Linked DNA regions of Homo sapiens. The protein of the gene in region 4 interacts with the protein of the main gene of each other region in a pairwise test. Each region holds a gene or a part of one and is shown on either strand. Other genes may lie near its edges.

What was found.
Region 1: the proteins of KCTD9 (region 4) and CRADD interact in binary tests that used the Homo sapiens proteins (3 or more experiments, as listed by UniProt).
Region 2: the proteins of KCTD9 (region 4) and SAXO4 interact in binary tests that used the Homo sapiens proteins (3 or more experiments, as listed by UniProt).
Region 3: the proteins of KCTD9 (region 4) and PDZD4 interact in a two-hybrid assay, tested with the Homo sapiens proteins (one large-scale study listed by BioGRID).
Region 5: the proteins of KCTD9 (region 4) and SPATS1 interact in binary tests that used the Homo sapiens proteins (3 or more experiments, as listed by UniProt).
Region 6: the proteins of KCTD9 (region 4) and MVP interact in a two-hybrid assay, tested with the Homo sapiens proteins (one large-scale study listed by BioGRID).
Region 7: the proteins of KCTD9 (region 4) and ANKS1A interact in a two-hybrid assay, tested with the Homo sapiens proteins (one large-scale study listed by BioGRID).

The regions. Positions count from the first base shown.
Region 1 is NC_000012.12:93,683,875-93,687,374, reverse strand, and holds part of CRADD (death domain-containing protein CRADD), read right to left. Parts: intron 1-3,500. UniProt on the Homo sapiens protein: Adapter protein that associates with PIDD1 and the caspase CASP2 to form the PIDDosome, a complex that activates CASP2 and triggers apoptosis.
Region 2 is NC_000011.10:61,487,620-61,491,119, forward strand, and holds the end of SAXO4 (stabilizer of axonemal microtubules 4), read left to right. Parts: intron 1-2,162; coding exon 2,163-2,327; intron 2,328-2,881; coding exon 2,882-2,951; 3' UTR 2,952-2,965; intron 2,966-3,194; 3' UTR 3,195-3,309; downstream 3,310-3,500.
Region 3 is NC_000023.11:153,810,045-153,813,544, reverse strand, and holds part of PDZD4 (PDZ domain-containing protein 4), read left to right. Parts: intron 1-3,500.
Region 4 is NC_000008.11:25,441,434-25,444,933, forward strand, and holds part of KCTD9 (BTB/POZ domain-containing protein KCTD9), read right to left. Parts: intron 2,903-3,500; coding exon 2,859-2,902; intron 1-2,858. UniProt on the Homo sapiens protein: Substrate-specific adapter of a BCR (BTB-CUL3-RBX1) E3 ubiquitin-protein ligase complex, which mediates the ubiquitination of target proteins, leading to their degradation by the proteasome.
Region 5 is NC_000006.12:44,349,150-44,352,649, reverse strand, and holds part of SPATS1 (spermatogenesis-associated serine-rich protein 1), read right to left. Parts: intron 1-3,500.
Region 6 is NC_000016.10:29,837,462-29,840,961, reverse strand, and holds part of MVP (major vault protein), read right to left. Parts: intron 785-3,500; coding exon 503-784; intron 1-502. UniProt on the Homo sapiens protein: Required for normal vault structure. Vaults are multi-subunit structures that may act as scaffolds for proteins involved in signal transduction. Vaults may also play a role in nucleo-cytoplasmic transport.
Region 7 is NC_000006.12:35,081,255-35,084,754, reverse strand, and holds part of ANKS1A (ankyrin repeat and SAM domain-containing protein 1A), read right to left. Parts: intron 2,065-3,500; coding exon 1,939-2,064; intron 1,601-1,938; coding exon 1,529-1,600; intron 1,339-1,528; coding exon 1,252-1,338; intron 638-1,251; coding exon of another isoform or gene 635-637; coding exon 497-634; intron 1-496. UniProt on the Homo sapiens protein: Regulator of different signaling pathways. Regulates EPHA8 receptor tyrosine kinase signaling to control cell migration and neurite retraction.

The DNA.
Region 1 (3,500 bases), on a different chromosome or scaffold from region 4:
GCAACAATGAGTTAAATCAACCCTGATGTTCAATACAGTGTCTGATGCAGCCGAACGGTCTATACATCCACAGAAGGGAGAAAAAAAGGCATAGCCAGAATTTCTAAGTGAAAAGAATACCAAATCCATGTTTTAAAGTGAAATGGAGGCATCTCCGCTGGGGCAAGACCTGTCACATGTTTGCTATTCCTAGAAAGACCTGCAATTAGCTGCCAACAGATGCATTATTTCATCAGTCCCATAAATACTCGATGAAAGTCTTCCGCTTTTCCTTTATGTCAGCCTTGCAGAGGTAGGAAGAAAAAAATCTTGTGACAAAATGCAGTACTGAACGATCATCATTTCCTTTTAAATGATTAAAATTAGCATTCATAAAAATAAAATATTTTAGTGAAATCTCATTCCAGCATACCTCTAAAGGCCCTTGGAAATTCTCCTCTTAAAATGAAAAAAAAAAAAATGCATTAGTACAATTTTTAAAAAGCCTCTTTCAATTATTAACACTGCAGCATAATACAATTCCATTTCAAACTCAGTGGGAAGCCAAGATTGCGCAGCAGAAAAAGTCCTAAATCAAGAGTTGCAAAGCCTGGATTCTAGTCCCAGTAATAAATTACATTAACTAGCTGTGTGATCATGGGCAAGTTGACTTAATCTCCCTAGGCCTCTGTTTTCTCAGAGAAAAATTAGATGACCTGTGAGTCCCACCCAGTTCTAAAATTCATAATACCAGGATATGGCTCCATCTTGCTGACTTTGTTTCACTAGCAAGTAAATGTGTTTAAAATTTAGAGAACTTACGAATTTTGAAATTCTAGTTAATTTAACTAATTCCTATCACTGGGCATAAATTGAAAGAGCAAAACTGTGAAGCATCATGAAAACAGCTCTATCTACTATCTATACTAGAACTGGAGCCTTCCTGCTTTAACTATGCCAGCCAGGTGATGGCTCCTCCCCCAAATGCCTGTCTTTCTTTTTAAATTAAAAAAATATATGATGAAAAGCAACTTTTGGCCACATCCTCACACCATTATTATTTTCTTTTCTTTTTTTTTTTTTTTTTTTTTGGGGGGGATGGAGTCTCACTCTGTTGCCCAGGCTGGAGTGCAGTGGCACAATCTCGGCTCACTGCAACCTCCACCTCCTGAGTTCAAGCAATTCTCCTGCCTCAGCCTCCTGACTAGCTAGGATTACAGGTGCCTGCCACCACACCCGGTTAATTTTTTGTATTTTTAGTAAAAATGGGGTTTCACCATGTTGGCCAGGCTGGTCTCAAACTCCTGACCTCAAGTGATTCACCCGCCTCAGCCTCCCAAAGTGTAGGGATTACAGGCATGAGCCACTACACCCAACCATTATTTCCGTTGGTTTTGTTTTTTAGACGAAGTTTCGCTCTTGTCCCCCAGGCTGGAGTGCAATGGCGCGATCTCAGCTCACTACAACCTCCACCTGCCAGGTTCAAGCGATTCTCCTGCCTCAGCCTCCCAAGTAGCTGGGATTCCAGGCGCCTGCCACCACGCCTGGCTAATTTTTGTATTTTAAGTAGAGATGGGGGTTTCACCATGTTGGCCAGGCTGGTCTCAAACTCCTGACCTCAGGTGATCTGCCCGCCTCGGCCTCCCAAAATGCTGGGATCACAGGAGTGAGCCACTGTGCCTGGCCTATTTTTTTATAGTCTCCTTTATGTTGACACATTTCTACTTAAATGTAAGTAATGGTTTTTTCCTAAATAATTTGGTATACTTTCAATCTTATTTCCTATTCAATATTCCTATGAACATTTTTCTTTTTATTTTTGGTTGATACATAAAAATTGTATATATTTATGGGATACAGGGTAACATTTCAATACATGCATACAATGTGTAATGATCAAATAAGGGCAATCAGTATATCCATCATGTCAAACATTTATTCTTTCTTTGTGCTGGGAATATTCAAAATCCTCTCTTCTAGCATTTTGAAAACACATAATAAATTCCTGTTAACCATATTCACCCTACAGTGCTAGGACATTAGAACTTATTCCACCCATCTAGCTGTAATTTTGTATCCATTAACCAACCTCCCCATCCCTGCCTCCCTCATACCCTTCCCAGTCCCTAATAACCACAATTCTAGTCTCTAAAAGTCATGTATTTTTAAAAGGAACTTCGTAAATAGAAAAGTTTTGCTTGCCATAAATGGAAGGAACCCATTAAGTTGACACAAAAAAAGCAATACAACTAGATTCTAGCTAAATACTGTTGCCCACAGAAGGCTTTAAGCATGAGGACCTCCTATCATTCTTACCGAACTGAAACAGAAATAGAAAGGAAATAACTTTCTCATCATGTAATTCAATATTACTTAATCCCACATCCACGTATCAACTAAAGTCATGCTACGAGCCACACAAGATCACGGCTGCACACACATCTCACATGTTGAGAGCAAAACAAAAGGTAGCCACTGAGCCTCTGCTGATGTGGAATGTGATTCATCCCAGGGAGGAAGGTGTCTTATTAGCCACATTGTCACCTGTGGCTCCCACTTGACTTCCTGTGTATTTGTGGTCCCCTCTATCTGAAAGCTCTCCTCCCTGTATCAACTCTGCAGCCAAACTCAGTTCTCTGCTCAGTGTCCCCTCATCAGAGAGGCTTTCCCTGACCACCCCCACCACCACACATACCGCTTCTCTTCATAGCGCTCTTCACCACCAAATGTTATTTATTCATTTGCTTATTATCTGTCCCTGCCCTTATCCCCTCCCTCTACTAGAATACATTGAACTCCATGAAAATAAGGGCTTTGTTTTGTTTACTGTTATATCTCCAGCACCTACTGTCTTGCACAGGGGTCCCCAACTCCCATACCGGTCCGTGGCCTATTAGGAACCGGATCGCAGAGCAGGAGGTAAGTGGCAGGCAAGCGAGGATTACCACCTGAGCTCCTCCTCCTATTGGATCAGCAGTGGCATTAGACTCTCATAGGAGCATGAACCTATTGTGAACTGCACATGCCAGAGATCGAGGTCGCGCACTCCTTATGAGAATCTAATGCCTGGTAATAATCTAAGGTGGAACAGTTTCATCCCGAAACCATCATTCCCCCCAACTCTCCCGTTGGTTGAAAAATTGTCTTCCACAAAACCAGTCTCTGACGCCAAAAAGGCTGGGGACCTCTGGTTTAGCACATGGTCAAGACTCAGCAAATATTTGCTGGATGAACGCATGAATGCCCTCAACTGATCTGGAGATCCTCCATTTGTCTTTATATACCCAGTACCTGGCATTCAGTAGGTCCTTAGGAAGTATATGAAAATCGGGCTGGGTATACACAGAAACCTGGGCCCTCTGCAGACTCTCCCTTTACCGAGGGAAGGGTCTTGCTATGGATACTGACCCACTGTTCTCACTCTAGCACACAGGACGCCACTAGGCAAACACTACTCAGTCACAGTGGAAGCACATGGATAGACTGCAAGCTAGATACACTGAGACCAACACTGAACTTAC
Region 2 (3,500 bases), on a different chromosome or scaffold from region 4:
TTAAAGCCCAGGTGCCTCCTTGCTCAGGCAAAGCAGCTTCTAGCATCCCAAGGGTAGCTTTCCCACAGAGATGCAGGGCATTGGTGGCCAGGCTGGTGGGCATGGAAAGAACAGGGCAGTGCGAGGGAGTCTGGAGCAGCAGCATCTGCTAAGACATTCCATCCAGCCAATGGTTGGTGGGCTCGATGCTCCCTCAGAAGGTAAATTCTGTGCTGTGCATTCCCTGGGTTAGGAGTGACTGTCCTGGGCATCAGGGAGGGCTTCCAGGAAGGAGGTGGCCCCAGAGCCATGGGGAAGCCTCCTGGGGCCAGGACTGGGTGGGGAAAGCATTATAGGAGTGGTATAAAGGAAGTGTAATTCTTCTTCTTCTTTTTTTTTTTTTTTTGAGATGGAGTTTCACTCTGTCGCCCAGGCTGGAGTGCAATGGCGTGATCTCAGCTCACCGCAACCTTCGCCTCATGGGTTCAAGTGATCCTCCTGTCTCACCCTCCTAAATAGCTGGGATTACAGGCATGTGCCACCATGCCCAGCTAATTTTTGTATTTTTAGTAGAGATGGGGTTTCGCCATGTTGGCCCGGCTGGTCTTGAACTCCTGACCTCAAGTGATCTGCCTGCTTTGGCCTCCCAAAGTGCTGGGATAACAGGCATGAGCCACCGTGTCCTGCCAAGAAGTACAATTCCTTTTTTTTTTTTTTTTTTTTTAAGATGGAGTCTCTCTCTGTCGTCCAGGCTGGAGTGCAGTGGTGCGATCTCGGCTCACTGCAAACCCCGCCTCCCGGGTTCACGCCATTCTCCTGCCTCAGCCTCCCGAGTAGCTGGGACTACAGGCGCCTGCCACCACGCCCGGCTACATTTTTGTATTTTTAGTAGAGACAGGGTTTCACTGTGTTAGCCAGGATGGTCTTGATCTCCTGACCTCGTGATCTGCCCGCCTCCAGGAAGTATAATTCTTAGGACAAACTCCGAGCCAGGAAGCGCAAGCTTTCCTCACAACATCAGTCACCTGTGTCCACCCTGCTTCCTCTCCAACTCCTGGTCCTTCAAGGTGTCCCTGCCACCTCTCTGTCTCCTCCCCCTGCCCCACCCCCTGCTCCGGGATACCTCCCAGAATCCATTCATGGAATAGACTTTAACTGAGCCCTGACTGGGTGCCAAGCCCTGCTCCAGGCCCTGGGAATGTGTGTGCAGCTCCTGCCCTACGGAGCTCAGACCTCTGCATGGGAGGAGACATGCATGTGGCTGCAGCCAGTTAGCGAGAGCTGTTAGGTAATGCGCAAAGAGAAAGGGATCGCGAGGGCTGCAGTGCGCACGGGTCGGATTTGAAATCGGTGGCCTTGAGCAGGTGACGTTTGAACTGAGACTGAAAAGAGGGGAGGGCGGTGTCCTGGAGGAGCAACAGAGAGTCTGAGCTGGAAGGGCCGTTTGTTGTCCTCTGGCCTAAACCCTGAGGCTCAGAGGGGAGGAGCAGAGCTTCCGCCCGCACAGCAGACTCAGCACAGTGGCCGCTCCAGTTCCCACGGAGGTGGGGGAGGGGCAACGATGTTCTGACCCCTTCTTAGGCAAACACCTCCTCCTGTGGCTCTGGCAGAGACCAGCTCCAGTCCTGTCTGCTGGGTCCTTCCAGCCTGTCGTGTCCTGTTGTGTCCTGAGCTCCTGCTGGCTGTCAGGCACGCTTGCTGGTGCTTCCTGGTGCGCGCAGAGCCCCGGGATTGTCATCACTGATTCCTGCATTGATCTGTCTGCACCCCCTCTTCATAAGTTCAAGGGTGGGACCCCCTTCTTACTTGTCTTTGCACCCTCTGGACCTGGCTGTGCTCAGTGAAATGGAAGGAAATGGAAATGAAATGGAAGGAAAGTTAAGTGCCTAGAGAAGTGGATGAGACGGGGTCCCCACCCCAAGGTACTGGCAGGCCAGGGACAGGGGCATCACTGAAACTGTCCTTTAACACTCCAAAGAGTGTTTCAGCGTCAGGTGGAGGGGAGGGCAGGCTTTTTGAGTAAGAGTTCCCCCAGTGGACGTGGGCTTAGGGAGAGCTAGACGAGGACAGCATGAGCAAAGGTGGGGAGGCTGGGCGATCTGAGGGTCGATGGAGAAGGGCAGCAGGGGTTGCAGAGGTGGGCAGAGTCCAGCTTCCAGCCAAGGACCCCTCCTCTCCTCCAGGTACTTTGAGAACATCCCCAAGGGTCTAGACCAGGAAGGCTGGACTCGAGGTGGCATCCAGCCCCAGATGCCAGGAGGCTACGCCCTCAGCCAGCCGGTCAGCTGCATGGAGGCCACCCCCAACCCCATGGAGAGCCTGCGGCACCTGCATCCCCACGTGGGAAGGTGGCACCACCCCCAGCTCTGTTCTTTCTCCCTACCCCTCATCCAGGCCGTGTGCCAGGCCTTTCCCTTCCTCTCCTCTCTTGCTGTCAGTCCGGTTCATTCCTATGAGAGGCCCATCTCCTCTGGCTGGCTCTGGTGTCCCTTCTCCTGCTAGCACAGGCTCCTCCCCTCCTCTCCTTCCAGTGACCCCTCCCTCAGATGGCTCCTCCTCCCTCTCCTGCCCCTGTTCCCCAGGCCCGGTGGACTGGATGGGGAGGATCTGAGCAAGGGGCTCTGGGGTGGTTCAGATCCAGAGGGGGATGCGGGGACGGATCCAGAGATGAATGGACTGTGGTTCGGCCTCACTCAGCTCCTTTCTGCTCAATTCAATTCCTCAGAAATTACATTTATATCAACAATGGCCCAGAGTTGGCAGGCAAAGAATGTTTGTGGCTTGGCTGCCCTGGCTGAACCCTGGCTATGCTCTCTCAGGGAGGGTCAGGCAGAAGACAAGAAGACAAGGTCCATGCCCTGCCTGCCAACACCCCCAACACTCTCCTCTTGCCTCCCTGCAGAACCCTGACCTCAGCTGACCCCTTCTACCAGAACACACCTCACAGCAGCCGCTGCGTGGCACACAGCTGAGCCCTGAGCCCTTGGTAAGGGGCTGGGGATCCCCACACTCAGCTGCTCTGGTTGTGTGGGCAACCGTTATGGGCCAGCCCTGCCTCTCAAGCCCTGGGTTAAGCAAGTCCTGCCTGGGGACCCCCCTTCCAAGTGGGGGGTGACAGATCAGGGGGCCTCTCAGAACCCCTTCTCTGCCAGGCAAGCACACAGAACCACCCCAGAGCCCCTTGCTCAGGCCTCGCCTCTGCTTCTCCTCTACAGGTTTGTCAATCCTAGGGGACAGGAGCCAGGCTACTGTCTGTACCCCCACTCCATCCCCCAGGGGAACACCCCTGCCCAGCTACTTTCCTAATGAAATAAAGAGCATTGAAGCAGAGAAGTGTGACATCACTATCAGGGTGGCTGGAAAAAGGAGGGGTGAGCTGGGGCGGTGGGTGCAGGGGTGGAGGAGCTAGGGCCAGATTTGGAGTCGGAAGGGCTCGGCTGGAACCTCTGAGGAACCATGACACGATGGATAGGCACTTCATTCTCCACGCTCAGTTTCTTGTCCTGTAAAGGGGTCCTCTA
Region 3 (3,500 bases), on a different chromosome or scaffold from region 4:
TAACTGCACATGCGGAATACCAGGAATTGTTTGTTCGACTGCTGGCAGACCTTTGGGCTGTCCCTGGTGTTTGGCCACTGTGGCCTTCATGCCCACATCCTCCTGGTCCTCCTGGTGGTGGTTCTGAAGGGCATCTCCTCTCATCTCATGGCTCCAAGTGCTTGCTAGTGGGTCCCCTTTGCCCTGAGCACCTGTTGATATCCTTTGCCCATGTTCTTCTTGAGTTGTTTGTGTCTGTGTTTTCTTGTTGTTTTGTAGGAATTCTTTGCATATTCTGGAAAACCCATTATGAGGTCCATGCATTGTAAGGCTCTCCTCTGAGCCCGCCTTTTTACTGTGTTTAGGGTGTCTTTTGTCGTCTAGAAGTTTTACATCTCTTCCATTATTGCTTCCCCATTTGAAATATTGAGAATTTCGTCTCTATCCCACACCATAAAGATATTGTTCTCTTGTTTTGCTTTGTCCCTGTAGGTCTTTGATCCAATTGGAATTGCTTGGCCAGGGCTTGGACTAGGTCTTCTGTCTTGGTGGGGCGAGCTCCCAGGGTGTGGAAACGTTTGCAGGTGGGGCAGGAGGGAGAGTCTGGTGGGAAGCAAGCCTGGGGTTGGCCATGTTGAGTGTTTGTGCCTTTTAGAGACTGGAGTGGTCGAGTAGGCAATCCGAGGGTTGGGGCATTACAGGGGTGGCTTTACCAGTGTGCTACCTCAGGATGGTTGGGGGTGGGGCGGGGAGGCAAGGCTCTGAGCAGGACTGGAAGAGCTGCTGTCATCAGAAGGGCCACAGTGTGGCTCCTTACCATGTGCCTGGCCCTATACCTCTTTGCTCATGGCCCCATATTTTCCCACCTTGTTGGTAGCCCTTAGCCCTTCCCCAGAGGGGAGCTCATTTCTTCCTTGGGGGTCCAGCATGACCGATGAGGAGGAGAGAGAGAGAGAGCGAGAAGGCTTCAGGAGCCCGTGGCTTCCACCCAAATACCTGCCTGGCTGTCACAGGCGATCACTCTGGTTGCTGCTGATCCGAGGTGCTGAGGCTGTGCCCACGCCCATCCCCCTCTTGACATCCCAGCCTCCGCCAGCCCGCCCAGCAAGCGCTCCTCAGTTTCCATAGCAACACTGCTGCTCGGTAATGATTCCGGGTAGAAAGGCATTCGTGCGTTCTCTGTCATCTCTGTCACCTGAGCATCCCACTGCCTGCTTGCTGTCCTGCCCCGGGAGTTCAGGAAGAAACCCTGAGGACAGCTCCGAGCCCTTCTGCTTGTGTGTTGGCTTCTCCTCAAGGGCAGTGGTAAGGTGGTAAATGTTCCCAGACAAAAAGCCCTGATTTGGAGCATTTGCCGATTTCCCTGGTGTAAATGCTGCCACTATAGCCGATTTCAAGCCACCACTGCGATGTCACTGAACTTGGAGTTGGGGGAATGCACACATAGTATTTCCATCTCCCATACCAGATGTGAATAACCCCAAAAGCACAGATGACAGAAAAGTGTAGTAAGATAATTAGACAGTGATGTGTTCCGAGGATTTATTGCCTTTGTTGTTAATATCATTCAGTTACCTGTACATTTCTACGGTTAAAATACCAATAATCGCTGTGTTTGACAACTGGCTTCCAAATTTCCCAGCTTCAGTTGGCTCTAGCCACTGCTGCTGAGAGTGTCGAGGCCATTCCATCATGTCCCTTTGTCTACAGCCTTCCTGAACCCACACTCTGCTGCCGCCCACCCTCTTCCATCCTGCCTTTCTAACTGTAGCCTCTCCACCAAGCACAGCATGCCCTGTCCTGACTGACATTCTTACGGTCTTCCAACAAATACCTTCTTGGCTGAAAGCTGTTTCCTTTATAGTATTTGATCCAGAAATTCCACCTCAAGAAATTTTCTCCACCTTGACAACCACTGGTTACACAAAGATTTAAGTATGAAAAATGTATAAAATGGACCCCAGAATGTGTCTTTGCCACATTCTTTATAATAAAAAATCAAAGCCACCCTTACTGATGTGATGATGAACATGATGGTCCACTGGTGTGTTGGTGTGGATGGACCTTAAGGGGCCTGCAGCTGCAAAATGGCACACATAGAAAACAGACTGGAAGGAAACAGGCCGCATGGCCAGGTGCGGTGGCTCATGCCTATAATCCCAGCACTTTGGGAGGCTGAGGCAGGAGGATTACTTGAGGTCAGGAGTTTGAGACCATCCTGGCCAACATAGTGAAACCCCATCTCTACTAAAAATACAAAAATTATCCAGGCGTGGTGGTGGGTGCCTGTAATCCTAGCTATTGGGGAGGCTGAGGCAGGAGAATCACTTGAACCCAGGAGGCAGAGGTTGCAGTGAGCCAAGATTATGCCACTGCACTTCAGCCTGGATGACAGAGCAAGACTCTGTCTAAAAAAAAAAAAACAACAGCTGGGTGTGGTGGCACACACCTGTAGTCCCAGCTACTTGGGAGGCTGAGGCAGGAGAATTGCTTGAGCCCAGGAGGTGGAGGTTGCAGTGAGCCAAGATCGTGCCACTGCACCCCAGCCTGGGCAACAGAGCAAGACTCCATCTCAACAAAAAAAAGCCCCCAAAAAACAAAAAAATGAACTGTGTTTCTTTTATAATCGGACAAAACTGATTTTGACAAAAAGCTCTTTTCAGAATATGAAAATTTTGGGGAGAAGGGAGACATAGAAAACTTCAATGATTATCTACAAGGACATAGTCAAATAGAAAAAAAGTAATGCAGGAGCCGCTGCTGAGGCCACAGGGGTTCCGAGGACAAGCTGGGCTCTCCTCAGATAGCTGTCTTCCCGAAAAGACTCGTACAGCGGTGGTTCTACTGTATCGCGGGCACTAAGACAAGATTTTGCCGTCAGAATTGACATCTCTGTGAGAAACCCGGGGTGGGAGGTGCCGCCGTGAGAATGCAGGACAGAGAGTTCTTCTAAACTTGCTAATATTCGCACAACTCGGAAAAGCAGAGGGCTCCGTGCAGGCGCAGCCACCTGCGCCCATGCCCAGGGCCCTTCTGCCCTCTCATCTGGCACAAGCTCCCAGCCTGCTCCATCCCTAGGCGGACTCTGGGTCTCCTCGCCCTGCCCTCTCTGTGCTGACTGGGGGCTTTGCTTCCAACTGCAAACCAGCCTCCCTGGGTCTTTTCTTGGCCCTGTTCCCTTTGCCTGATGGAGGCCAGGTGTCCCCTGCTCCAGAAGCCTTCCCCGCCTCCCACCGAGGCGTGCATGGCCAGCCGTGTGCTCCCTTAGCTGTGGGTAAGGTCTGTCCCCACGCTCACCTGCGGGGCATAGCCATTTGGGCATAATGCTAGTGTGTAGCCTCCCCAGGCCCAGAACAGCCCTTCCATAAGCCGCTGAGCCCATGAGGAGACCCTGCACGCCTGCCTCGAGCTGCCTCCTCCTAGAAGTGCTTCCTGCTGACCCTTGCTGGCCCCATGGCACGTGCCCTGAATTCTGGTGGAGTCTGTTCAGTCCTTCTTGGTCCTTAGTCATTCGTCCCTTC
Region 4 (3,500 bases):
ATGAAAACATGCCAGAAATACCCACAAAATAGATCAAAATTATAATCTAATATTCCAAAACATGCTAAAAGAAGTTTATACAAGGTATAAAACAACAATATAAACCAGGATTTAAAAATTCAGAAATGAGTAGCAAGAACTCCCAAGAGAATTAGAAATAAAAGAAAAATGATTTTTAAAGACTAAAGCAAAAGAAATACAAGAGTGATTAAACACAATAGACAATGACTTAAGGGAAAGAAAAGGTAAAAAAGAGAATAGCTTGAAAAATTAAAAAGAAATGGTCAGACGTGGTGGCTCATGCCTATAATCCTCTGGGAGGCCGAGGCGGGTGGATTGCTTGAGCTCAGGAGTTCGAGACCAGCCTGGGCAACAGGGCAAAACCCCAAAACCCCATCTCTACAAAAAATACAAAAAAATTATCCGGGCATGGTAGCACACATCTGCAGTCCCAGCTCCTGGTTGGGGGCTGAGGCAGGAGGATCACTTGAACCCAGGAGGTTGAAGCTGTAGTGAGCCAAGATCATACCACTGCACTACAGCCTGAGTGATGAAGTGAGGCCCTGTCTCAAAAAAATAAATAAAATAAAAAGAAAGGAAAAGAAAGTTTCAAACATAAAAGACAAGTGTAAAAGATCCACCCTACATACAATAGAGTCCTGAAAGAAGGAAATCAAATCAAAGTGAACAAAATAAAAATGTCAACTTCAAGAGAACTGTACTGAAATTTTAAAATACATACACTTGAAACTATATATTGAAAGGATCCATCACATACTGAGAAAACCAATCCAGAACAACTCAGAACACCAATAAATATTCTACTAAAATTACTGTACTTTAAAGAAAGAGAAATATCCTTTGGGTGATCTATGAAAAATAATCACATAAGAAAGATCAGATTTTTTGAGACCAACACCTCAGGCCAGAATAAAATGCAGTAACATATTTAAGATATTCAAAGAAAAATAATGTGAACCAAGGATTTTTCAATAGCTTCACTGAGGTATAATTAACACAGAACAAGTTACACATACTAAAGTTTATAATTTAATAAGCTTTGACATATAATTTTATACCAAAATTATATAAAGATGGTGGATGGCAATGGCATCTTGCCATTGGAAGATGTCACCGAATATTGTTCTCATAGTATCTTGGAGAGAAATCTACTAGAGAACAAGTTTCAGATAAACACTGGAAACATAACAAAAGGACTGGAGGTAAGTGTACGCTTGAAGAAGTAAAACTAAATGAGTGTATAAAGGGAGACACTATAATATACAATGGCTATATGTTCCGACAATTCAGAAACAATACAATTATTTTTAAGTAAGGGGAGAAGGGATTTAGCATATGAAAAACATTTAACTGTTTTTAGTAATTATATTGGTACTGAAAGTATTGAGTTTGTTACTCTGACATTTTTAGATGTGTTCTGTATGGGGTAAAGTAAATGAGTAATTATGTGACATTATAATTCTATTAGTCTCCATGTCCCTGAAAGTCAGGACTATTGATATAGAAAAAGGAGACACAGATGTAAGACAGAAGAGGATAAGTAAAAACCTTATAATCCTTAATATAAACTTTAAGTACTACTATGAAGCCATGAGTTATTTCATCTATCCATATTTTGTTATATATGACATATAAACTTTATATCCTATAACATACATTATATACAAATTTTATCTCTACCTATATATTTTCAATTCTGTCCACCAAAAGGCATAGCAACAATAATGAACCCAATAGCGAAGAGCCTCCCTAGCACCCAGATTTGTCTTGGAATGACACTTCCCACTAAAAAAATCAAGGCTTGTTGGAAAAATGTTGATCCAGGTCTGAGACAGGAAAAGGTTTTAAGATGAACACCAGTTATTCCAGATAATAAGAAAGCCATAAAATCCAACAAGGTTTGTTAAAAAGACCCGAAGAGATTTCCAGTGGCAAAAAATTAAGACCATCTGAACATCAATAAATGCAGAGGATGAAAATATACCAAATATTTTTAAATCCATGAGTTAATAACAATAAAAAAACCTTAATTGATCATTTTTTATTGTGTTTGTATGCAGTGGACCAATTAAGTGACCATTGCCTGCCAGTCACTGTTAGGCCAATGGATAAAAGAAGATGAGAAGTTCTTGCTTACAGTTTTAAGGTAGAGACAGACAGACAAGAGTATGCACTTACTTCTAAGTTGACAATTGCCTGTGCAACAATCGTGAGAACTACTTCCACTCACCAAATGCAATTAGTATGATGCTTTAAAAAATACTTAAATATTCAGAGTGTGGACTGTATGGATCTAAATAAATCAAATACTTTATCTTCCTTTCGGCCTTTTCTTTTGAGATATACAACTATAAGCTTTCTTCCAAATCAAAGGGTAGTGTGTGTGCACACCTGTGTGTGTGGTTGATACCAAGTCATTTTTTGGCTGATCTGATCACTGTGAAATACTGTCAAACACTACTTACGCAAGCAATATTTACTCACAAATATGTAATACAACACGTAGAAAAATTTTGACATTCACCATCAAAGAAAAAATTTTCAAACAAAACAATTGTTTCTAAGATCAAAACTACCTTACTATGTTACAGTTAATGAATATGTATACCTCCAGAGCATTTTAACGGCATGTAAAACATGCATCTATAATAAACTACGATCATATAGTAAAAAATTTACTTTAACATACCCAATGCAGAATCAAAAAGTGTGAAGATTTGAATACAGCCATAAGATCATTTTTAATGTTTAAGCTTAATAGCCCCATTTAAAATAATTGTCATTCCATCTTTTTTTTTTTTTTTTGGCAGATAAAATTGGCTTTTAAAGTCACTTACCAATAAATGGCTCTCCTTCACAAACAAACAAAACATCATCATCCCTGGGGAAATCAAAATTTAAAAAGCTACCATCAAAATCTAAAAATCACATTAATTATCTGTTGCTTATAGGAACTATTCCTTACAATTATATAGACAATAGGTTTTGCTATCAATCTAGACTGCAAAGAAGCTAAGTTTCCAATGCTTTGTTTAACCCCTTGAACTTAACTGTCTTTGAATTTAAATTCAAAAATAAGATCTTGCACATGAAAGTACTTTTGAAATGTGGGGAAAAAAATCTCCTTACACAAACGATGTTGAGTTCAGCTTTCTTATCAATTGAGAATGAATAATTATGCTGAAAGGATAGATTAAAGTCACAGCCAACTATTCTTTTTTTCTTTACATTTTTTACCCCTAAATCATCAGCTGTTGTGTGCTTTGGAGATGAAATAAACTGTCATATTAAATCTAGGAAAAATATAGCTGGAAGTAACTCTACTGTCAGTGTTTACCCACTACACATCCACCATACACCCAAATGTAAATGGCTGCACATAACCCAGAGTTCTGGACAATCAGTGCACATCCTCTTCCTCAACCCATTACCCCAGATACTGTATTGTGAACCAAAAATGAATAAACAGATATCTTATA
Region 5 (3,500 bases), on a different chromosome or scaffold from region 4:
ATAAATTTTTAAAACAGCTAACATTTATTGAACATTTACTGTGCACTGAGGATTATGTCAACACCTTTACACATATTATTCCATTTATCCCTATAACAACCCACAGGCTTAGGTATTCCTTATTATCCCCATTTTATGGTTGAGAAAACTGAGGCTGAGAAGGCTAAGAAACTTGCCTATGATTGCATAAAAAGTAAACATCTAGGCCCGGCGTGGTGGCTCATGCCTGTAATCTCAGCACTTTGGGAGGCCAAGGTGGGTGGATCAGATAAGATCCACCCTGACTTGAGGTCAGGAGTTCGAGACCAACCTGGCCAACATGGTGAAACCCCGTCTCTACAAAAAACAAAAACTAGCTGGTCATGGTGGCACACTCTTGTAATCCCAGCTATTTGGGAGGCTGAGGTGGGAGGCTTGCTTGAACCCAGGAGGCAGAGGTTGCAGTGAGCCGAGATCACATGACTGCACTCCAGCCTGGGCAACAGAGACTCTGTCTCAGAAAAACAAAAAAGAAAAAAGAAAACATCTAGGCCCATATTTGATTACAGCTCTTGTGACACTAAAGCCTGAGATTCTAAGCCCTGTACTAGACTGCTTGCCCCTACATATAGTTCACCTACTCTGAACTAAGTGGAAGACCTAGGATCTGAAGTGAGCTATATAGCACTGTACATTGTATTAAGCATCTCAATATAATTTTCCAAAGGATTTGTTTATAAAAAGACTGATGAATATAATGCTGATCACAACCCAAAGAATGCCCTCAGAAACTTCTGTGGGTTCCCCTCACAGTTCTTATTCATCTTAGTAGAATCCATAACAGTGCCTGGCACAAAGCAGGTGCTCAATAAATGTTTGAGTGAATAAATGAAAAAGAATTATAACTCCCCAACCACCCACAGTTACAAGTAAGGGAGTCCTGAAAACCAGTGAGTGTCAGACATAGAAGAATATCCATTATCTTCACTCTGCTATACTATTAATACTTCATGAAAGCCAATTTGTTCTGTTATCATCTCATACAGTTATGTACCTCATCCAGCCACAAAAATAAAAAGTCCGATGAAAAGATTATGCATATTTCTTTATGCATAATTTCGTAGAGCACTAAAGCTCAATAGATGGCAATGTAACCTCTGGTTATGAGAAAATTGTAAGAAATAAGAGTCAAACTCTGATTCTTGAGTACATTTTTAGACTGACTACTATTCCACCTACACAGTATCATGCTTCACACATATAGAGTCATCTTTTGGTATCGACGGGGGATTGGTTCCAGGACCCCCGCAATACAAAAATTACAAAAATCCAAAGATGCTCAAATCGTTTATATGAAACAGTGTAGTATTCGAATATAACATATGCACATCCTCCTGTATGCTGTACTGTAAATCATCTCTAGATTACTTGTAATACCTAATACAATGCAAATGCTATGTAAATAGTTGTTATATACTTATTTGTATTATTTTTGTTGTTATATTGTTGTTTTCTTTTCTTTTTTCTTTTTTTTTTTTTTTTTTTTTTGACACAGAGTCTCACTCTGTCACCCAGGCTGGAGTTCAGTGGTGTGATCTCAGCTCACTGCCACCTCCGCCTCTGGGTTCAGGTGATTCTCCTGCCTCAGCCTCATGAGTAGCTGGTATTACAGGCACTCGCCACCATGCCTGGCTAATTTTTGTATTTTTAGTAGAGACAAGGTTTCACCATGTTGGCCAGGCTGGTCTCAAACTCCTGGCCTCAAGCAATCCACCTGCCTCAGCCTCCTAAAGTGTTGGGATTACAGGTGTAAGCCACGACACCCAGACTTGTTGTTTCCTTTTTGAATATTTACTATGGGCAGTTGGTCGAATCTGCCAATGCAGAACCCGTTGATATGACTGTATAGTGTAAACTATGCAAATTCCCACCATCTATCAGCAGGACTGCTACTCAGAGAATTTTTTATTCATTTCCTCTCAAATTCATATCACAAGTGAATAATACCTTTTCCATTCTTATCAAGTCCCGATCTATCACCAAACCTTTCACTCCTAAGAGGACTTTGCCTGTTACTCTACAAAGCTTAAAGTTCAGCTGAGCTACTCCCTCCCTTCAAAATCCTCCCACTCTGGGGCTTCTCAGGACATGGCGCAAGGCCTATCTGCATCAGAATTACCCAGGAAGCCTGTTAAAAATACAGATTCTCAAATTCCATCGCAGACCTATTGAATTAGAATCTCTCCAAGTGAGGCCTGGGAACCTGCATTTTAAATAAGCCCCCACCCTCACCCCTGCTCTTCATTTAGGCTCACGTTTGGCAGTAATCTCCTTCTTGAAGTCTAGTTCCATCACTGCACTGTATTTTATCCAGTTCCACTTCCAGATTCCCAACTGCACAGAACTTCCTGAATTTGCCCAGTCACGAGAATCCCCTTGGGGTACTTGTTCAATATGCAGGCCCCAGGGCTCTGACTCAGACCTACAGTCTGGGAGCCAGGATATTTAAGAAGCACCTCAGGTGATTCTTAGGGTCAGCCAAGTGTGGGAAGTGCTGCTCTGGAATATGCCCTAGAGCCTAGAGCAGCCCCCAGCACAGTGAGGTCCAACTGGTTGCTTGAGGTGTAACTGGGATGGAGTCAAGCCCAGGGGAGGTGGCAGGCAAGCAGCAGGTGAGGATGAGGAGACGGGTCCCCAGTAACCAAAGGAAGAACCACCCATATACCAAGCCACAAAACAAGTATCAACAATACATAGACCACACTCTCTGACCACAATGCAATACAATTAGAAATCAATAATAAAAAGACAGCCAAAAAGTATCCATAAGCTTGGAAACTCAAACCACACTTCTAAATAATTCACATACAAGAAGAAATTGTAATGGAAATCATGAGTTGCTTAATGATCAATGAACATTGAGTACTATATATCAAAACTTGTGGGATTCAACTAAAGCAGTAATTAGAAATCTGGGGCCTTGAATGCATATGCTGTATTTCACTGAATATAAGGCACCATCAATTGTAATAGCATCGTTATTTTATGTATCACAAAGAACAAAGGCTGCCAATTAAAGTATGATACATGCTTTTATCACTTAGAATTTTTATTTTATACTTATTGATGCATTCTTTTAATTTATTTATAGATTTTAATCACATATCACTCATGCACATATATAAAGAAGGAAAATATAAGCACAATAGACTGGTTAAGGCATTCCTAAATCTTATGCACATTCAGAAATCTGACTACTAAACCACTTTCAACTCAATCACTATTGTCCACACTTTCCACCTAATACTGACCTAATATTTCAATAAAAATGTGAGTTGAGTGATGCAGCATTTCTTTCTTTTTTTTTTTTTTTTTTTTTTTTGAGCCAGAGTCGCCCAGGCTGGAGTGCAATGGCATAATCTCGGCTCACTGCAACCTCCAACTCCAGGGTTCAAGCAATTCTCCTGCCTCAGCCTCCCGAGTAGCTGGGATTACAGGTGCATGCCACCACACCCAGCTTA
Region 6 (3,500 bases), on a different chromosome or scaffold from region 4:
AGTGGACATGCTAATATTTTTTTTTGACAGAGTCTCACTCTGTCACCCTGGCTGAAGTGCAGTGGTGTGATCTCGGCTCACTGCAACCTCCGCTTCCCAGTTCAAGCAATTCTCCTGTCTCAGCCTCCCAAGTATCTGGGACTACTCAGACCACCACCACGCCTGACTAATGTTTGTACTTTTAGTAGAGACAGGGTTTCCCATGTTGGCCAGGCTAGTCTTGAACTCCTGACCTCAGGTGATCCGCCCGCCTCGGCCTCCCAAAGTGCTGAGATTACAGATGTGAGCTACCGCACCTGGTTGGTTCTAACATTTCAAATGAGACATTTAAGGCAGAAGGATGGCAAACACTCCACGTAGTGCCCTCCCCCAACCAGACAGCCCACCTGATATGGCTCTCCATGCTGCTGAAGTCCCTGCCCACCTCTTCCACACACCCAGAGGAAGCCGCCACCAAGGCCAAGGCCACGTGGCAGCACTGCTGCTCACTCCCAGCCATTACCTTTCCGGTCTTGACATCCTGCACATAGATGCCCTCGTTCTCGTCTAGAGGGATGGCCTGGCGCTCCTCCACCACCTCCACTTTGGCAGATGGCACATACTCCAGGGGTCCGCGGATGAGCCAGTGGTCCCCAGCCTGGTGTGAGACCTTCTCCTCATCCTCCCCCTCCTCCAGGGGCTGCAGGGCCCTCAGCAGCAGCCCCTGCTGCTCCGACAGCACATACACATCCTGGATGCCTTGTTCCAGCTGCTCTCCTGGCTGGAGGAAAAAAGACTTCTCTCCCTAGTGGGGAGACGTGAGGTTAGGGTCAGTGCCTTTAGGGTTGCGGGTGCTTCCAATGGTACCTCCCCAGTCCTGTGCTGTTTCAGGCCTGTGTGGAGGACAAGAGCACCAGAAGCCCGCCCCCACCCCCACATCATAATACGGTGAGGCACTGTCTGGACTGTGAGGCTCTACACAAACGCCTGCCAAATCTCATCTGGTCAAATGTGTCCTTGAAAGATTCCATAACTGTCAGGACCTGGATCCACGCAAGCTAAACCATTAAAAATCAACCTGTTTTTTCTTCTTTCTCCCAGGCTTTGTTTTCTAGAGATGGTGTAACCTAGGGCTTGACAAACTCTGGTTTTCAGGCCAAATCTGGATTCTGCCTTTTTTTTTTTTTTTTTTTTTTTTTGAGATAGTCTTCCTCTCTTGCCCAGGCTGGATAGTGCAGTGGCATGATCTCAGCTCTCTGCAGCCTCAACCTTCCAGGCTCAAGCAATCCTCCCACCTCAGCCTCCCAAGGAGCTGGGACTACAGATGCGCATCACCACACCCAGCTAATTTTTGTGTGCTTCGTAGATGATGGGGTGTTGCCATGCTGCCTAAGCTGGTCTCAAAGTCCTAGACTCAAGCGATCTACCCACCTCAGCTTTCCAAAGTGCTGGGATTATAGATGTGAGCCACCACGCCCAGCACCGCCTGTTTCTTAAAAAAATTTTGAGATATAATCCACATATGAAATTTTCCCATCTAGAGTATACAATTCACAATTCAGTTGTTTTAGTATACTCAAAGTTGTCCAACCATCACTGCTATGTTAAGTCTAGAGTATTTTCGTCATCACCCTGAAAAGAAATCCTGTACCTAGAAGTTACTGCCACTCCCCACCTACCCCACCCACCACTAGTCTATTTTCTTTATGTGTTTACCTATTCTGGACATTTCACATAAATGGAATCATGCAATATGTGGTCTTTGATGTCTGGCTTTTTTCTTTTTCTTTTTTTGAGATGGAGTCTCGGCTCAGCAGCCCAGGCTGGAGTGCAGTGGTGGGATCTCGGCTCACTGCAACTACTGTCTTCCAGGTTCAAGAGATTCTCCTGTCTCAGCCTCCCGAGCAGTAGCTGGGATTACAGGCACCCGCCATCATGCTAGCTAATTTTTGTATTTTAACAGAGACGGGGCTTCACCATGTTGGCCAGGCTGGTCTTGAACTCCTGACCTCAGGTGATGTGCCCACCTCAGCCTCCTAAAGTGTTAGGATTACAGGCGTGAGCCACTGCGTCCAGCTGGCTTCTTTCACTTAGCATAACATTTTCAATTTTATCCATGTTGTAGCACGTATGTCATTATTTTTTGTTTTTCCTAGAGACAGGATCTCACTCTACTGCCTCAGGCTGGAGTACAGTGGCACAATCATAGCTCACTATACACTCCACTTCCTGGGGTCAAGCGATTTTCCCACTTTAGCCTCCCAAATAGCTGGGACTACAGGTGTGCCACCATGCCTGGTCAATTTTTAAAAGTTTTTGTAAAAATGGGGTCTCACTATGTTACCCAGGCTGGTCTCAAACTCCTGGCTTCAAGCAATCCTCCTGCCTCGGCCTCCCAAAGCACTGGGATTATAGTCATGAGCTGTTGCGCCTGGCCTGCCATTTCTTTCTTATGGCTGAATGATATTCCATTGTATGGATATGCTACAATTTTTTATCCATTCATTATATATGTACATTTGGGTTATTTCTAATTTTTTTTTTTTTTTGAGACAGTCTTGCTCTGTCACCCAGGCTGGAGTGCAGTGGTGTGATCTCGGCTCACTGCAACCTCCGCCTCCCGGGTTCAAGCAATTCTCCTGCCTCAGCCTCCAGAGAAGCTGGGATTACAGGTGCCTGACACCATGCCCAGCTAATTTTTTTGTATTTTTAGTAGAGAAAGGGTTTTGCCATGTTGGCCAGGATGGTTTCTAACTCCTGACCTCAAGCGATCCACCCGCTTTGGACTCGTAAAGTGCTGGGATTACACATGTAAGCCACCATGCCTGGCCTATTTCTACTTTTTCTGCCTCCTGTTTTTGCAGATAAACTATTCCAGGAGCATGGCAGTACTCACTTGTTTACGTAGTGCCCAAGCTGCTTTCCTGACATAACAGCAGAGTTGAAGAACTTCCACAGAAACAATGACTCACGGAGCCTGGAGTATCTACCATCCAGCCCCCTTTACAGAATGAGTTTGGCAACTGCTGGTATTCCCACATATAGTTCAGAGAGGGGATGAAGTAGGGGGTGGGAGAGGGTAAACCAAGAGGTTTATTTTACAAAAGATGACAAAGCAAAGTGAACACCAGGATATTAAAGATGTGAAATATAGTCACTGCATGATAGTTCAGTCCATTACAGACTGCACATGGTGGTCCCGTAAGATTATAATGGAGATTTTTTTTTTTTCTGAGAGTCTCACTCTATCGCCCAGGCTAGAGTGCAGTGGCACGATCTCGGCTCACCACAGGCTTGATCTCCAGGGTTCAAGTGATTCTCGTGCCTCAGCCTCCCGAGTAACTGGAATTACAGGTGTGTGCCACCACACCTGGCTAATTTTTGTATTTTTAGTAGAGACAGGGTTTCCCCACGTTGGCCAGGCTAGTCTCGAACTCCTGACCTCAAGTGATCCACCTGCCTCGGCCTCCCAAAGTGCTGGGATTACACGTATGAGCCACTGTGCTGGCCTATAACGAAGC
Region 7 (3,500 bases), on a different chromosome or scaffold from region 4:
GCCCCTAAGAGGGAAGTAGAGGGCATTTCTGGGAGGCGGCCCAGCCAGAGGTTGGAGACCTAGGGCAGGGAGCCGGGGGAAACAAAGGCCTTGCCTGACCTAAGAAAACACTCGCCAAAAAGCTGGAAAGTCAGGGGCGGTGGCTCACGCCTATTATCCAGTTACGTGGGAGGCTGAGGTGGGTAACTTGCCTGAACCCAGGAGTGCAAGGCAAGCCTGGGCAACATAGTGAGACTCCATCTCTTAAAAAAAAAAAAAAAAAGCTGGAACCTCCTGTCCCTAGTGCCCTGGGCCAGTCCCTGTTCCCTCTGCGCGTCAGTCTCATCACTGTGAAAGGGGACCGGCCTGAGTGCTGCTGGGCTCCATTCATGAACCAAACATTTGCCAGGCACTGGCCAGGGGCCAGGACAGCGCCGCATCTGTGCCCTGCAATGGGGCTGGACGCCTCAGGGCTGCAACCCAAGCCTGCCCCACCCGGCCCCAGGACCCCACCCACCACATCCACGGTGCTGAACACATGGCAATAGTGGTGGCTGGTCTGCAGGTCCTTGGTGATGTAGGCAAAGGTACAGAGGTCCTCCGGGTCCTGGGCCGCACAGGAAATGTTCCGGATCTCGTGCTCTGCAATGACGTTCTGCTGGGGAAAGCCGTGTTCTGGAATTCTCAGGCTCAGGCATGCCTCTGGCACCCCCTGCCCCAGCCTGTTACCATTGTCACTGTTCTCTGTCCCAGCCTAGAGCATCAAGCAAACCCCCCTTCATCTTCTCATTTTGTTTATTGGTGGGGGTGGGGGTCCCCGATTTTGGTTTGGGGTCTCCACCCCTTACCACAACAACTAAGGCAGTAAAATGTTCACACCCAACCACAAGCTCTCCCCAGCCCCTCCCACCTTCCAGGGTGGGGGCAAAGTGGGAAGGGTGTCAGGAAGGTGGGATCCCACACGGTGGCACACAGAGAAAGTCCTTTGCTCACGGAGGGAATCACACCTGTGAGCAGGTGTGCGGCCAGTGGAGCCCAGGTGGCGAGGCTAACAGCAGTGATCACTAGGGCGGGGACGGGGCTGACAGCAGGCACCCAGGCCAGCAGATGAGAGACACGCCTCTTAGCAAAGTGGGAAGTAATAAGAGGACTGGGGACCCTCTAGGGAGATAAGAGATGAGACAGGGCAGCCGGGTTGCTTGCCCTGGAGCCCTGTGGGTCTGACGGGGATGTGGGTCCCACTCCCACCAAGAGTCCCTGTAAGCAGCACACCTTGTTGGAGGCATCGATGAACTTGACACCTTTGTATGTGATGGACAGGATGATGGTGGGGATCTTCTTCATGTGCTCCGTAGATTTCTACAGGAAACAAGGGGTGGCCCTGTCAGTGCCCCTTCTCAGGGCTAAGCCTCCTGGGCTTCCACAGGTCCCAGCTTCCTTCCCATCCTTACATAGTGCAGCAGGGCCCAGGCAACTGCAGCTACTGCCCCCATTGCTGCCTTCTGCTGGCCAGTCCCACAGCGCCCTCCAGCCCACACAGGCACCCTACCCGCATCTTGGCACAGGCGTCTTGCGTGGATTCTGTCCCTCGCAGATCTTTGATCAGCATGGAGCCCAGATACTGTGGGGGCGAGCAGTGGCCAGGCTTAGGAAATCCTGCGTTTCCATGCAGGGGTGACCCAACCAATTTGGGACTGTCCCACAATCAAGTAGTTACCCCTCTCAATAACAACACCCCCTCTCCTGCCCCAGCTGGAGAGACCCTCCATTCAACTCCCTAGCTAAAGGATCCAGAGGCCTCCACCCCTTCGCCTTAGCTGTCAAGAGTGGCTGAGAGTGGAGAACAGCTCAAAAGCCCTGGGCCTGGCTTTGTGGAGTCCCTGCTGGGACTTGGCCGCAGGTGCCTGGCCGAGAAGGAGCAGGGAGGCCGGCCCTGCTGGGAGGGTGGGAGCAACTCACATTGGCTTCATAACCACAGGACTCGAAGATGAGTTTCTCTGGCTGGTGTTGCCAACTCTGCACTGGGGCGTAGGGGGCTGCCAGGCTCGGGGGCCGCAGGGTCAGCTTGGCCTCACGGTGCTCCTCCTGCGAAACACACGCAATTGGACACCTGCTCCTTGCTCCAGAGGAGCACATGGGCTTGCTGCCTGGCTCCAGCACACTCAAGGGTGAAGATGCCAGTGACCTTAGCAAGTTCAAGGGTCGAGTGGAGATGGCAGGGGGCAGACCAGCAATTCAAACACACTGCGGGAGAGGGGAGGTGCTAGCCACAGCAGAGGCACAGCAGGGACCCAAACCGCCTGAGAGCAGGGCTTGGGAAGGACAGTCTCTGTGGTGTCCGAGATGAGTCTCAAAGGAGATGGGAAATGACCAGAGAGGAGATGGCAGAGTCTGTGTGGGGGGCACAGGCTGCCAGGCTGTTCTGCACAAAGACCAAAGGAGAGAACAGCGCCCACGAGACCCTGGGACGCCTTGGGACCCAGCCCAGGGCCTGGGAGGGATCTTCACAGCGGGGAAGCCAGTGAAGCACCCGCCCGTGCCTAGGAATGCATTCCAAATGGATCCTTCTGGCAGCAGCTAGGGGGTGGGGGAGGCCACTGCGGTCCAGGTGAGAGATCATGGGTCCCTGTCCAGGGCACTGGTGGAAGGAATGGAGAGGAAGGAAAAGATTCAGGAAACACGGAGGCCCTCCCTTCCCAGCAGTGCGCAGAGCCTCTCAACAGCAACCGGAATTGCTGGACAATGTGTTTAAAAATCCTTTAAAACTCATGGCTGTGCTTGTAGAAAGGGAAAGGAAGTCCCCAGAGCCAGAAGTGAGAAGTGAGAGTCAGAGAAACAAGCAGGGGTGAAGCTGAAGTTCACCCGGAGGGGCCTGAGGGACACCTGCTAATCCTGTGTCTGACAGGCCAAGAAGAGGACAAAGGACAAAGCCAAGGTCCGTACAAGGAGGGAGGCAGGACAGGCAGGTCCTGAGTAAATCCAGGACCCCTGGAAATGATGCCCTGAGAAGGTGAGCCAGGAGTGTGAGACGGGCCCACCTCCGCCAGGGCTGGAGCGGGCACCGGGAGCGGAGGAGGCGTCTCCAGCGGTGCCCCCCACGGGGCTGCAGGCAGAGAACAGGAAGAACAGAATCTGGTCTGGCTGTGGTTTTGCTGAGCAGGAGGAAGAGAATGCTGCCGAGGTGAAGCTGCAGGGAAAGCAGTTCTGGGGAACAACGTGGGTAAGCAGAGAAGGAAGGGGCCAAGAAGGAGCTCAGAGGCCAGGAGAGCACAGAGGGCTCTGGGGCCAGCAGGGGAGGCAGTGCAGGACGCAAGAGGCCACAGAGAAAGAGCGGACAGGGGATCTGAACCCCTGAGGGAGGGAAGTACAGGACACAGGAGTGGCCCCAGCAGCTGACAGCTAAAGTGAGTTGTGCGGCCCGAGCTCGGCACCATGGGTGCTGGGTGGGCCTTACGCAAGGCGGCTGGGTGTGGGCGAGCAGAGCAGGCTAGTGCCTCCTGACTCTGGTGCCAGCCCAACTG